2 linked regions of the Homo sapiens genome follow. The protein of the gene in region 2 interacts with the protein of the main gene of each other region in a pairwise test. Each region holds a gene or a part of one and is shown on either strand. Other genes may lie near its edges. The genes, in order: PELI2 and RNF220.

The links.
Region 1: the proteins of RNF220 (region 2) and PELI2 interact in a two-hybrid assay, tested with the Homo sapiens proteins (one study listed by BioGRID).

What each region holds. Positions count from the first base shown.
Region 1 is NC_000014.9:56,296,357-56,302,124, reverse strand, and holds the end of PELI2 (E3 ubiquitin-protein ligase pellino homolog 2), read right to left. Parts: intron 5,526-5,768; coding exon 4,959-5,525; 3' UTR 601-4,958; downstream 1-600. UniProt on the Homo sapiens protein: E3 ubiquitin ligase catalyzing the covalent attachment of ubiquitin moieties onto substrate proteins. Involved in the TLR and IL-1 signaling pathways via interaction with the complex containing IRAK kinases and TRAF6.
Region 2 is NC_000001.11:44,408,138-44,415,291, reverse strand, and holds part of RNF220 (E3 ubiquitin-protein ligase RNF220), read right to left. Parts: intron 7,143-7,154; exon of another isoform or gene 3,504-7,142; intron 3,312-3,503; 5' UTR 3,195-3,311; coding exon 2,570-3,194; intron 1-2,569. UniProt on the Homo sapiens protein: E3 ubiquitin-protein ligase that promotes the ubiquitination and proteasomal degradation of SIN3B. Independently of its E3 ligase activity, acts as a CTNNB1 stabilizer through USP7-mediated deubiquitination of CTNNB1 promoting Wnt signaling.

The sequences.
Region 1 (5,768 bases), on a different chromosome or scaffold from region 2:
TATGTCAAAAATCACTGACAAATCTAAGGTTACAAAGGTTTACATTATGTTTTCAAAGGTTTACATTATGTTTTCTTCTAAGAGTTCTATAGTTGTAGCTCTTTGACCCATTTTGATTTAATGTTTGTATGCTGTGTGAGGTGTATTCCTTGCCCAATGGAATGTAACTTACAATTATAACCAGTTGTGATTTTCTATAACACATCTCACAATTCGTGGCATCTTAGATTTGACAAAGTATGGAACACTTATCCCCTGAAATAAAAGCCTATATAAATGTGCATTTTTTTTCTGGAAATGAAAAATCTGTTTCTCTCAATAATACTAAAACTCTTTGAATATCAATGTGATGAGAACAAAATTTGTCATAAATATATACATTTTCTTATGATAGATATATTAGTTTAAGGCTTCAAGGAAGGCTTGAAGGCTTATACACAATCCTTATTATGTTGTTAAAAGTGAATGAAGACTGTCACAAGAGCAGCAATATGGCTGAAATGATCATGACAAAAATCCATTAATTCTACAAGTCAGGTTAAATTCCCCTGGAAGTTAACTTTATTTGACAGTGATGTAATGTCACGAGAAATAGTAATATAGGCACCAAGGAAATTTCTTTAATTAAAAAATGTAGGGGATTTTCAGAATCAAGGTTTAAATATGTATTGTGCAGAATATAAAACAATTAATAAACTCAACAGCTGGAGATTAACTTGGAAGTTAGAGAAGTGAAAAAAATCAGTTCTACTCGTATCAACCTACTAAATGTCCTAATGAACTCAGTGACAACCACAGAATCTGAAGACAATGGCTCACAAACAGGCTGATATCCATTTAATAGTTTTTGAAGATTTTTTCCTGTAAAATGGCTTGTATTTCCACAGGTACAATAGTGAAGAAATAAACTTTTCAATTTGACATGAAATATAAAACAACAATTTTACAAACATATTCATAAAATTTAACTGCTAATAACACAATACATGGTAAATGTGACCATCCCCTTAACTTCTAGACTATTTAATACAGAGAAGCAATCTGTCATCTCAGCTAAAAAGAAACATCTTTCCTTTCATTGAGTTTATTTTTGTTTGTTTAGAAACTGTCAAGCAAAACTGGAAAATACTTATTTTCCTTATCTTCCTCTAGGGATTCTTCATGAGGGCAAAGACTTATTTGAAAGGATGTAAGTTATACTAAAAAGAAAATACTGAACCTTTTTTTTGTGTTACTGCTTCAATGATGCTTAGATTATTTTAAAAAGATGCTGAAGTCGTCTCATTGGTCGCACAGAAGGAGGCGCATCATAACCTAAGCCACAAAGGCTAAACTACTGGGACAGAAGATTGACAGTAAAGGGATGGAGATGGATTTGGCTTAAAATCAAAGTCCTGTGGTTTGTCTATCAGAAATTCCACTGTTATGAGGCAAGGCTGCAAGAAGATAGTTTTTACCCAGCATTAACAATGGTGTAATCACACACCCTTTCAAGCACATCCAAAGAACAGAATGGCTTTAAAAAAGAAAAGAAGTGAAACAAAACCATAGAACTGCAGGTAACAATTCTACAACCTATATTACACTTCAATTAAGCAGAAAACTCTCGTAAGTGTCCACACAATACTGAGCTCCCAAATAACAGAGGTTTGAGTTTTTCCATGAAAAAAAAAAAAAAGACATTGAAGCTTTATGAACTAAAGAGTTCTCCTCAAGTTTCCCAATACAGTAAATGTAATAACTTAAAATAATTTCCCTATTGGTACTGGAAAATAAATTCTACTACAATCATGTTTATGCCAGTTTCTGACATATTTCTGCATCCAGATTCATTAGTCTCCTTAATGGAGCCCATCATTTTTCCAATGGCTTTCTCCTTTCTTTAAACCCTAACCCTGAAATTCTATAACCAGTTATATCACGTGGCTTCCCTGAGGCACAAAGGTACCAAAGTCTATAATTAACTATCGAGGAATGATAAATATGTTCTCTATTTATATTAACAGATTTTAATTCTTTTGGGCCACAGTTGGGAGAAAAAAATCCAGAAACCTTAATACTCTGCAGGGTGAACTGTAGCCCTTTTTGCTAAAAGCTGAACCAAATAAGGGAAATGTTGAGAGTTGCAGCATGCATGACCCGGCAGCACCGATTATTAATAAAAAATTCCGGACTAGAAAAATACTCAGAGTTGTACTCCATCCACTCTGAATCTTTTTTTTTGTAGTAAACGACATAAACAACTGAAAAATATTTCTATGGGAATACATCACTGGGACTTTTACTTCTGGAAAGCTACTTGCAAAAGGCATTAGAGTCAGGCCAAGACAACTAATTGGTCTGCAATTTCCTTGTGTATACACATGGGGGAGTGGGGCTAGTCCTTTAAAGTGATGGCAAGACATAAAAAAAGAAGTGACCTTGGAGAAATTACTTTTCTGAATTGCGTTTCTCCACCTTGGTGAGCTACAGAGTTCTTTATTTTCACAAACTAACTCAACTGTGAAAAAAAAAATCTCCTTAGTCAAAATTGTAAAGGGATCTTCCTACAAGTGGCCAAGAAGAGCCTGGTGTCCTTTTTGCTGATTTGCCACCTCTCTGCAGTTCCTTAGGCAGGGTGGGCGGGACCTGACTTTGGAAGCCAAAGGAAAAGATGTGGAGCCCATGGAGGGCGGTTCACTGTTACCCCTTCCAAGAGCTTGGAAATTATTTCCCAAATTTCAACTTATATTTAAGCTGAATTTACTAAAAGTCAGAAACTTTTAGTTAGACATATGCCCAACTACGGGACGTGTCCAACTTGGAAGGTAACTTCATTTTGGGGGATATGTCACGTTGCAGAATGACTAGACTTATAAACAGGACTTGAAATGGAAAATTATGATATACCTAACTCTCTGGAAAAATATCTTTTTTTCTTGGTAGGTAAAATCTGGCCTTTCTGGATGCAAGACCATTTAGCTTACAAGATGGTTTTAGGGCATCAAGAATCCTTCAACCACTTTCTAGGCATACAGCAAGAAAAGAGAACGAGTGCCTCCTTTGTCATTCTTTGGGGCCCAAAGAATTACAGGCTGAAAAGACATACTCTATCAGTGAAAGCTAATCATCAGAGACTCTGGCTAAATCAAAAGGCATTCAATATATTATTCTAGGCAAGTCCATTTTTTTCTTTCATTTTCTGTCTGCAGGTAGAGTAAGCTATACAGAATACAGCAAGCTATCTGTAAGAGGACTGTTGTCATCGATTTTCACACCATTTAAAATTTACCCAAACAAAACCAAAACCAAAAATGTCTCATCCTAAACAATGATCTCCACTGAAAAATAAAGCTATATTAAAACTGAGAGGCTGAACTTTAAACATATTACATCAAATTAAGCAGCAGCAATCAAGAGTAATATTATCGTATCACTTTAAGGAAAAGCGTATTCAAATAGGTTAGAACGACTGAAAATAGGCAAAATATTTGCCAGTAGGCAAAATACGAAAAAACCAATTCAAGTATGGATATAGTACATTAGAATCATATAAATTACGTATATGTACAAAGGTTAAAAAAAAGTCACCCAAATCTGCAATGGTCAAATTAAGAGAACATTAGTTTAAATAAATACTTATTTTATCTCAGCCAGCTTCTACCAGTCTCATGTCCTAAAGGATCTTTACCTTCTAGGAGCAGTGATACGATCGATGCCAAGCATCCAAGAATTATTAATCAAAATGAAATGAAAGTAACAGGAATGGTGGAGCTCCTATGAAATTCTCATTTAATTATTCCTCAGCAACACTCATTTGCTCTCTCAAAAGCAGGAATTTTGAATTATCTCTGCAGATGTACCACTTGGTGTTGTGTATATCTAATCATCCCACTTAAATTTAGTTTGATTCGCAAACATTTTCAAAACTTACTGGGCTCCTTAAGCTGCAAGGGAAGGTGACAGATGGTGAAAAGGGAGTGCACAACAATGACTATATCATTGTGATTGGTTGGCTTTCTTAACAAAGGAAAAAAAAAAACCCCAAGCTTTATGAAACCTCAAGTGGTTTTAAAAAGTAAAAGCTTATTTTTAATCATTCTTAAATCTTAATTCAGTCAGCAAATAAACATGGTAGTATAGTACCCAGACCATGTCTACTACTGTAATTACCCTCAGTTAATGAGTTTTTAAGAGCTGATGTATTTTAATCAACCAAACAGTTCTGGCCGTGCAAGATGAGTATCGGGGCAAATCATATTAGGCAGAAATAACAAAAGACAGGCTAAAAAGTTATGGAAAATTGTTTGTGAAGTCCCATGTATTTGATGAATGAATATCTAAAGTAAATTCCACTGAAGTTAAAAAAAAAAAAAGCCCACAAGTTATGAATATTCTCTCCCCCAACAAGTCAGAAAAATAAATCAGAAAAAGCCCCAGATTTCAAAACCACCTGTGCCTAAGGCCATCTGTCCACCAGTCACACTGTACAGAGCCGCCCCTCTGCTGTCTGGTCAGGTTTGAGCCACGATCAAGTATTTCTAGACACTGTGCGCCCTTCGCGTAACACCTACACCACACTGCACTGAAGTGAACTTCATGAGCCCACACTTTTGAATAAATTTCTTCTACATCTGTAAAATATGATTTAAAGTCTTGTCCAAGATTACAAAAAAAAAAAAACTTGGTTAAAAACCCAAGGTTAAAAATAGAAGCATAGCATTTTAAATCCAATTATTACAAAGATATTATGGTTTAATCAAGCAGACTTCAATGACGACGCTGCTGTTTTGAGCATGCAACACACCACTGGTATCTGTTACACTCCTGCCATGTTTCATCACCATGTCCCCTCTCTTTATTTCCAGCCCCTGTCACCCTCCTCTGATAAACAGCATTACAAAAAGGTAAAATCTAGAGTTAGTGGCAAAATCTTCACAGTAACCTGTTAATAAAGTCGTAGATGGCTGTCAAGGGCGTCAGTCAATTGGACCTTGGAAAATTAATTTGATGCAGTTTTGCTCCCCAACCAGCTGTGTAGCACAGAAAGGGCAAGCAGCGTGAAATGCATGAGTTCCATGAGGCAACGGGATCTGAGACCAGTATTTTGCAGACTTCTCCGAGCACACGTGTCCACAGGGAGTGAAAGCATGAGTTGGCGGTCCTGCGTCTACATAAAATCCTGCCTCACAGCCAAGCCAGAGAGGCACATAGGGGCCCACAGTCCTGCACATGGGACACTCCCTCTCGTTGGCCTCCGTGTCACTCCGATGGCCCCAGTTGTGGTACCCGTGCACGTGGCCACAACTGAGATATGCCCAGGGCTGCTTCTCCTCCACCACCTCTTTCCTGTTGATGCTGGGGAAGGCCAGGGTGTTGAGCCCCACAGGACACTGAGGCCGGGCGGCGTTAATCTCCTGCCGGAGGGCTTCTATGTGCTTCTGAGTTGGAGTATGAAAAAGCCCATCTGCTGTTCTCCAGAGGAGAGTGGCCCCACACAGGTCAATGAGGGAGCCGTCCTGCAGGACGTTGGTCTCACTTTCCACCTACAACAAGTTTGAGACACATGCCTTTTAAAAGCAAAATCAAGCAAATCACTCCAAGATTCTTTCCTCTCAGAACAAGCAAAAAAATATTTGAAGATAACACAGGGAAGCAATTTATCCCACAAAAACAGAACTGGGGGAGTAACCTATCCTCCCCGAGCCTCATCTTCCTCATCTGATCACTGGATATGATACATATATGCCGTATGTACAAAGCCCTGAGCACAGTATGTATACCTAGCT
Region 2 (7,154 bases):
GTAGGGAGGACCTGAAAGGCATCTAGTGGGAATAATCAGGCCTTCTAACGACCCTTAAATATGTATTTACATAAAACAGACCATAAATATTCCGACACACGTCGGCATATGACAGGAGCCAAGAAAGCTGCTGCAGACTTTGTCTTAGTGCCTCTTCAACCCTTCCTTACAGAAAAATACTTCTCCTGCCTTCCAAAAATTCGCAATCAAAAGCACAAACGCTATCTAGTATGACCCAGTGAGGGATGTGCTAACCACCTAAGGTAAGGAAGGGAGTAAAAAGCACAACTCCAGGGTGACCACAGGGTAGCACAGCCTCCTTTTCACTTTGCACCTTTGTTTTTTATTAAAGATTAGTCACAAATGCAACTCTGGATAATAACGAGGGTGTACGAACACCCTCCCCTCACAGACACTCCTATAGGTTTTATGCTTGTGTACAAGAAAAAAAAAGGAGAACACAGGGTACTCTATAAGGGAAGACTATTTTAAATGAATAAAAGAGGAAAGGGACTCCAATTTGTATAACACCGCATTGGAAATAAAGAAGTTTCCCCACCCTTCTGATCAGAATCTCATTAATTTCAAGGTCAGAATTCCATTTCACTTTGGGAGACAGACTCATTTAATTTTTCTCCACCCAGGCGTACTCCTGTGTGAGGGATCCATCTCCATGGGGGATGCCACCACCACACAATGCAAACCAGGCAAACAGAAGAGTTATGGCTTTGACACTCAGAGGGGAATGGATATCCACGTCTATGAGTTCTGACTTGACTAACAAGCTTCCTCCTGCTCTGGAGTCGGATACAGGTTTGGGCTAAAAAGATAGAAAAATGGAGACAAGCTGGATCTGTTAGGTAAGAAGAAAGAGATCTCAATCTCCAGATGTTACTTTGTGGCATATTAGCTAAGAGAAGATTTCATTTTCAACTTGTATTTGGAGAAAAAAAGGGGCGGAATCTGTCACACCCTAACACAAGGCAGTTTTGGCTGGAGGTCACATTATAACTAGCCTTGATCACTTGCACATCACTGGACAAATGAAAACTAAAATAAAATCAAATGAACCAACACAATGCCGATACCTGTTCAGCAGGTATATCCAAGAAGCAGGATCACAAGACACACAAGTCAACAGAAACTGAAAAGGTGAAAGAGAACCAAAGCCAAAGTGAGAGGGCAACACTAGCAGTAGTGCTGTCAGCCAGCAGCCTTCTCCCTTAAGTGGGGAGGTCTCCGGCTTACAGAGGCTGACATAAAAGACACACTTGCAACATATTTCAAAACCAAAGAGCGATGGATTTACAAGGCAGGTTGATTTTATGATGACTTTTATTGAAAAGGTACGCTGGGTTTAGGCAGATGCCTTTTAGCGCAGGGAAGTTAACACAGTGCCTAATTCAAGGAGACAGCCTGACGAAGCAGTGGCGACAGGGGAGAGAGCTGCAATGTCTCTATTACTCTCCTCGGCATCATAAAGAGGAGGGAAAAAAATGGTATTCGTGTTGGTGGTTATAGAGAGGATGGGAGCACGAAAAAATAGAGAAAAGTGGAAGGCAAACCTCAGATGTAGTTTTCTTAAGAAAATAAAATGAAGCAAATCTGAGAACAAAGGGTTGCGTGGAAAAAACACCCTCAGTTCATAAATTCTCACCAGGCTTGAAGAAAACTGCTCTGTCTACCCACAGCCCAAAAGCTTCAAAACACAATTATTTTCTGATTATATTAGAGCAAAAGATTGCAGGGTTCAGCACTCCTAGTCTACAAGTTCCAAATAAAGGTTTAGTTCCAGCTATAAGTGTAGCCAGAGCCCAACAAGGCACTTGGAGAACATGAAAAAAAGCTGTTTCATAAGCAGAAATTAATAATAGTTGTGAACATCAAATTTGGAGCAGTCACACAGGTCAACCGTGTCTAGTCCTAAAAGTGAGCCCCAGGATAAGCATCCAGCAAACCTGTGAAATCCCAAGAGAAGTCGGCTTTCTAGCCTTGCGATCGCAAGGAAAACACAGCTGTGTGAAATGCTTTATGGTGATTGACGACACCTTTGTCCTTCTCTGAAAAATAGCCTGATGTGGACAAGGGCTGAGAGTTGTGAAAATAGAATCACGTGGAGTCTGCTGGATGTGATACAATGGAAAAGCTAAAAAATAACACTGAGATCAGACAAACATAACGAGGACAGCAAAGAGAGGAGGGGTGGACATGTTTCTTTAGGCCCCCCAAATTCCCTAGGAGCCGACACTTCTTAATGAAATGACATTCACTTCAGTACGTCGGTGGCACCCCTCTTCACTCAAGTCCTCAGAGAATAAGCCCACTAGGGTCCGGAGAGAAAGGCTGTGCTGGGGCCAACTTGCCTCTGGCTACTTTCAGAAAAATATTTCAAGAACTATCAGTGCTCACTGATAAGAGACAAGCAAAGGTTAGCACTCCACAGCTAGTGAAAGGGAAGTAGTTGGCCCTTCCTATTACTAGGAGCATGCAAAACGCCACCGACCTGTTGAACATCACGGTGAGGCAGGGCTTACTGGGGGTAAGGGAGGGCTGGAACCAAAGTACTTACATCTGTCATTCCGATCCTCTGGGCTAGATGAGGCTTCCCGATCAGAAATGAGGCCAGAGACAGCAAAAATCTTCTTCCCAGTGTCATCAACCTTTAGTGAACCGGGGGAGCTAGATGGCAGCTGTGTCCCAAAGTCATATTCCTTGCCATCTGCATCTGAGAAGCGCAAGTGGGGAGACTCTGTGTCATGGCAGTTCTTAAGTCGCTTGGCCGGCGTAAAGGCTGACTGATAGCTCTCCCGGTCCTCGGTGGAGGCAAAGGGCCGGAAAGCCCCCACACCACTATGATTCAGCATACTGATTGGGGTGCAATCTAGATTTGGGGGAGCAAATTGAGGGTGGAGGTGTAGTAGAGAAGGGGGGAAATCACGATTGGCAAAAGTGCCTGGCACCCCACCTTGCCGATGGTACATAGAGGCAAAGGTATAGGAACCGTTGGTGAAAGGAATATGCACGTCCTTGTCAACTGAGACAGGTACACCAAAGGGTCGTGGCTGCTGACAAGGGATGGAAGCATCACGGCTGGCCTCAGCCGTGGATGCCAGGACCATCAGTGCTGGGGATGCCAGAGGGTTGGGAAGGTAGGATGAGTTCTCCATCTTGAAGGCTGCCCGGTGTAAGTCCATCGGAGTCTCTTTCTGTGGCCGGCGTTACGCAAGAAGCAGTCTTCCCTGGGAGGGAGGCCAACCAGCACTTTGGGTCAGGGCAGGGAATATTACTGGGGAATCATTCCCTCCTAAGACCTGTAGAAACAGCAAAGAGAAAAAAAGAAGGGGGAGGAAAGTCAGGGGGAGGAAAAAAAGGGAAACCCCAAGTGATCGAAACACCATCCTTCTGGCTCACAGATGCTCGGGCAAGAGACACCACAGGCTTTAGGAGCCAGTGGGCAGCAGCATCAGACCATTTTCATTCAGGAAAATCAATAGACAACTTACTGTGATGTACGCGTAGCTGACTTTGGTCCCTACACGTTCTGGGTGAAATGCGCCTGAGCCCAGCAAAGAAAAAAATATCATAAAACCTCCAAATACGATATTCTCTGAACAAATGAGCTTTGGAAGGCCAAGCCATCCAGTAGATTAAGTGGGGGTCTATGTTTTAAAGTGCTTCCACCTGCATCCACCACTCATGGCAGGCCTGATGTTCAGAGACCACATTCTACCTATACGATTCCCCACATATGCATCCTCTCTTCATCTCCCCTAACAACACCCTGATACTGAAATATCCCTAATTCAAGTTCATCTAGACCAGGAACACTTGTACATATTAGTTAGTACAAAGTATACACATGGATAAAAGATACACATTGGCATATACACACACACACACATCTTCATGTATCATCTAAGACTGTTTCCAGAAAAAAGTGCTATATGAACAAACAGCATTAACATTTATTTTGAGGCACACCTCTCTCTAATCACATGGGCTTTCTATTTCTCTTTTCTGAGAAGGAACAAAACCTTCATCAATAAAATGCCTGGCGTCTCTGACAACACTTAAAACCATAATGGGTGCCTTTGGCATACGCTCTCTAGAAGCATCTGTCTTCTAAGGGCAGCAAAGAACAGATCGGTGATTTTAGTTACTAATGCACTCACTCTTAAGTAGATTTGTAAACTGCCTTGGATTTGCCATTAACATTTAGAACAAAATGTTAACAAAATTTCTGACTTATTTTGCTCTGCTTATTGGCCCAGTCAGAGCTGATGTCCAATAAAGGCCCCCGGAACAAATTGGAGTTCGGAGAGACTTCTTTCAGTTTCCCTTGTAAATTTAGGTTGTACATTTTCATAGTCAGTGGTTCCATTCCAAAGTGTATTTTGAGTGGGGGCTGGGAGAAGGGCTATATATCAAAAGCCGGGACAATATAAGATGAATACCAAGACTTATTAGTGTCAAAAATATACACGAAATAGAAACTTAGTGAAACTCAAAGCATAACCAAAAATCACCGTCTGCTACAAATTATACCTTTAAATTGAGAGTCATATCAGAAATAAAATCTACCTCGTCCCTTTTAAAAAGCCCACCTGGAGTATCTTTGGTATTCCCTCAAACAGAGAAACATCAGTTAAACGGTAGATGAATCCTCCTGGCTTAATGCAGTGCAAAGAGAGTATTTCCTTCTCCCATCCTGTAGCAGACATGTCAATGACTGTTATTAATTGGGAAGATGAGTGGACACCATCAGACTGCTTCCTCATTTGGCATCTTTCCTTATAGACATCATTGCTAAATTACCAGATTATGTATCTCACATTAACGGATTTTTCTCTCTTCCAAATTTTAAATAACTTTCCTGTCAAGTTATAGCAGTGCAGGGAATGATCTGCCAAGGACAGCCAGTTAGGCTGACAAGTCTGGGAATCCTGTTCTTGGCTGTTTTCTAGTCAGATTAATGGTCATACAACATGGACGCTCTGAAAGTGGGTCTAGGGCTGTTCCAAGGGTTCTAAGCAGCTCTTCACAACAGAAATAGCTACTTATCTATCAACAAGCAATATTATATGAGGAAAACTGGAGAAAAGAAATGTGAAGGGAGGAATGTTTCCCCCTCAAAATACGACCCCCCCCAGGATTCACTTGCTATTTTTACTTCCTAGATCACCTCATTATCTTAAATGAGTTTCATAAATTAGGAATCTGGTGACAGCACCGGACACTCCAACAGAACCTGGTGAATCACTCAACCCTGGTTATTCATTTGAAAACTTCATTACACTGAAAATAAATCAACAATATTTTTCCAGGCCACATCTCTTTTACTTCATTGCGTGGGCGTTGGTCTCCATGGGGGAGGGGGGAGTGCTTTTTTTCTTTTTTTTCTTTTCCCTTTTCTTTCTTACCCTCTCCTCACATTAACAACTTGTATAGATGAGGCTTCAGCTGACCACAGTCATTATGAAAATCTATAGTTAATACACTCCCAATGTCAAAATGTCATGGGTTTAAACACAGAACCCAAAATAAGAAAACTAACTGACCCTCTTAATTAAAAAAATATGGATTGTAAGATAATCAGCTTGATGGAGCATTTGGGTGACTGTGAAGAACCCGGCAAAGGGAAAGTAAGTAACTGTTACTTTTCTGCCTCTATGCTGATTTTTTTTAATTTAGCACTTCGTGCAAATCCAGATTAAAATAACTCCAGCTATTGATCCGAGCAGTGGAATTGACATTAATTTTAGTTCACTTCTCACTTTGCAAAGGGATCAATAGGAAGTAATAACAGCTGACATCCCCGCTGAAAGGAGGAGAAAGAAGGGCTGAAGACAGAAATCGAAAAGCAACCAAATAAATCATCAGCTACTTTTCCACGGCATCAGACAAACTCCAAACAGATTGCAAAAAGTCTTTGTTGAATTAACTAAACAAGGAGGAGGGATCAATCCACGAAGCTAAATAAATTGTCTGGCAGGCAGTGAGGTTGGACGGAGGGACCAACAAATATTGAGTTAAAAAATTTCAAATCCTTGACGTGATGGGTTTGGTTCAGTTCCGTATCTGTGGGAGTTTGTTTGTTTCTTAAATCACACTCCTGACCCTGGTTTAAAGTGATTGCAAAACGCCAGCTATCTGAATAATTAGTGAGATTACTAATTGCGTGGTTAAACACGCCAGAACCAAGACAAATGAAACGAAGACGTCCGCGTTTGGAACGTGAAAATGTCTGAGGCTGGGCTGATGCGCAGCGCTCCGCGCTCTGCGGAGCGAACTAGCCACTTTCGCACAGAAAAACCGAAAGCCCAAGAGAAAGTCTCAGAGAGTAGGTAATCTCCCATCCCAGTCCAAGGTCTGGGCTTCCTGACCTGCGCCCGGGATCGGCATAGAAGGAAGCGGTGCTGCTGCCCCCTCTGCCTCCGCCGTAGCTGAGAGCCAAACCCCTTTGCAAATGACTGCCACAAAGAAAGCTGCAAAGGGCTCTTTCCCGGAGCCGAGCTCAGGGCGCCCACCAAACTACGGCTCTGCTGGCAATTAAAATGCACACACAACACTCCTCTGCTTATTACAACAGGTGACAGTTTTGTGGTCTCTGAACCGTTTCCAAAAGCCAGGAATTAAAATAATAGAACAAATTAAACGATATTTTTCCTTTGCATAAATAAACTTTTAAAAAAATTAACAAGGAACTTAAAAAGCAAAGAACAATGGGAAATGAGGCAGAGTAGTGGGGGGTTGTTAAGAACGCAGGAAAAAAATTTTTTTTTTAAGTTCACAGACTTCTTCGCTTGAAGAGAATTCCCGCACACCAAATGCCCAGGGGGTATTTGGAAACACCGCTCTAACAGAAATTTTACCACCATATGCGAGAGCTCAGGGAACATAAGGCTAACACAGTTCCCGGGCTAGGGCCGACGCCTGTGTTTCAGGCATGGCCGGGTATGGTCCCAGATTTGGACCCGGGTTCAGGCCCAGCTTGGCCAAAGGGTGCGAATCCGAGACAGCCCGGGCCAGTCCGAGAGTGCGGGGTCGCGGGATACTGGCTCAGCGAGCGGGTGCATTATTCAGCTCGGAAGAGTCTCGACTGGGAAAAAAAATCAACTCTTTTAGGGAAAACGGGGGAAGAAGAGGTGAAGGCG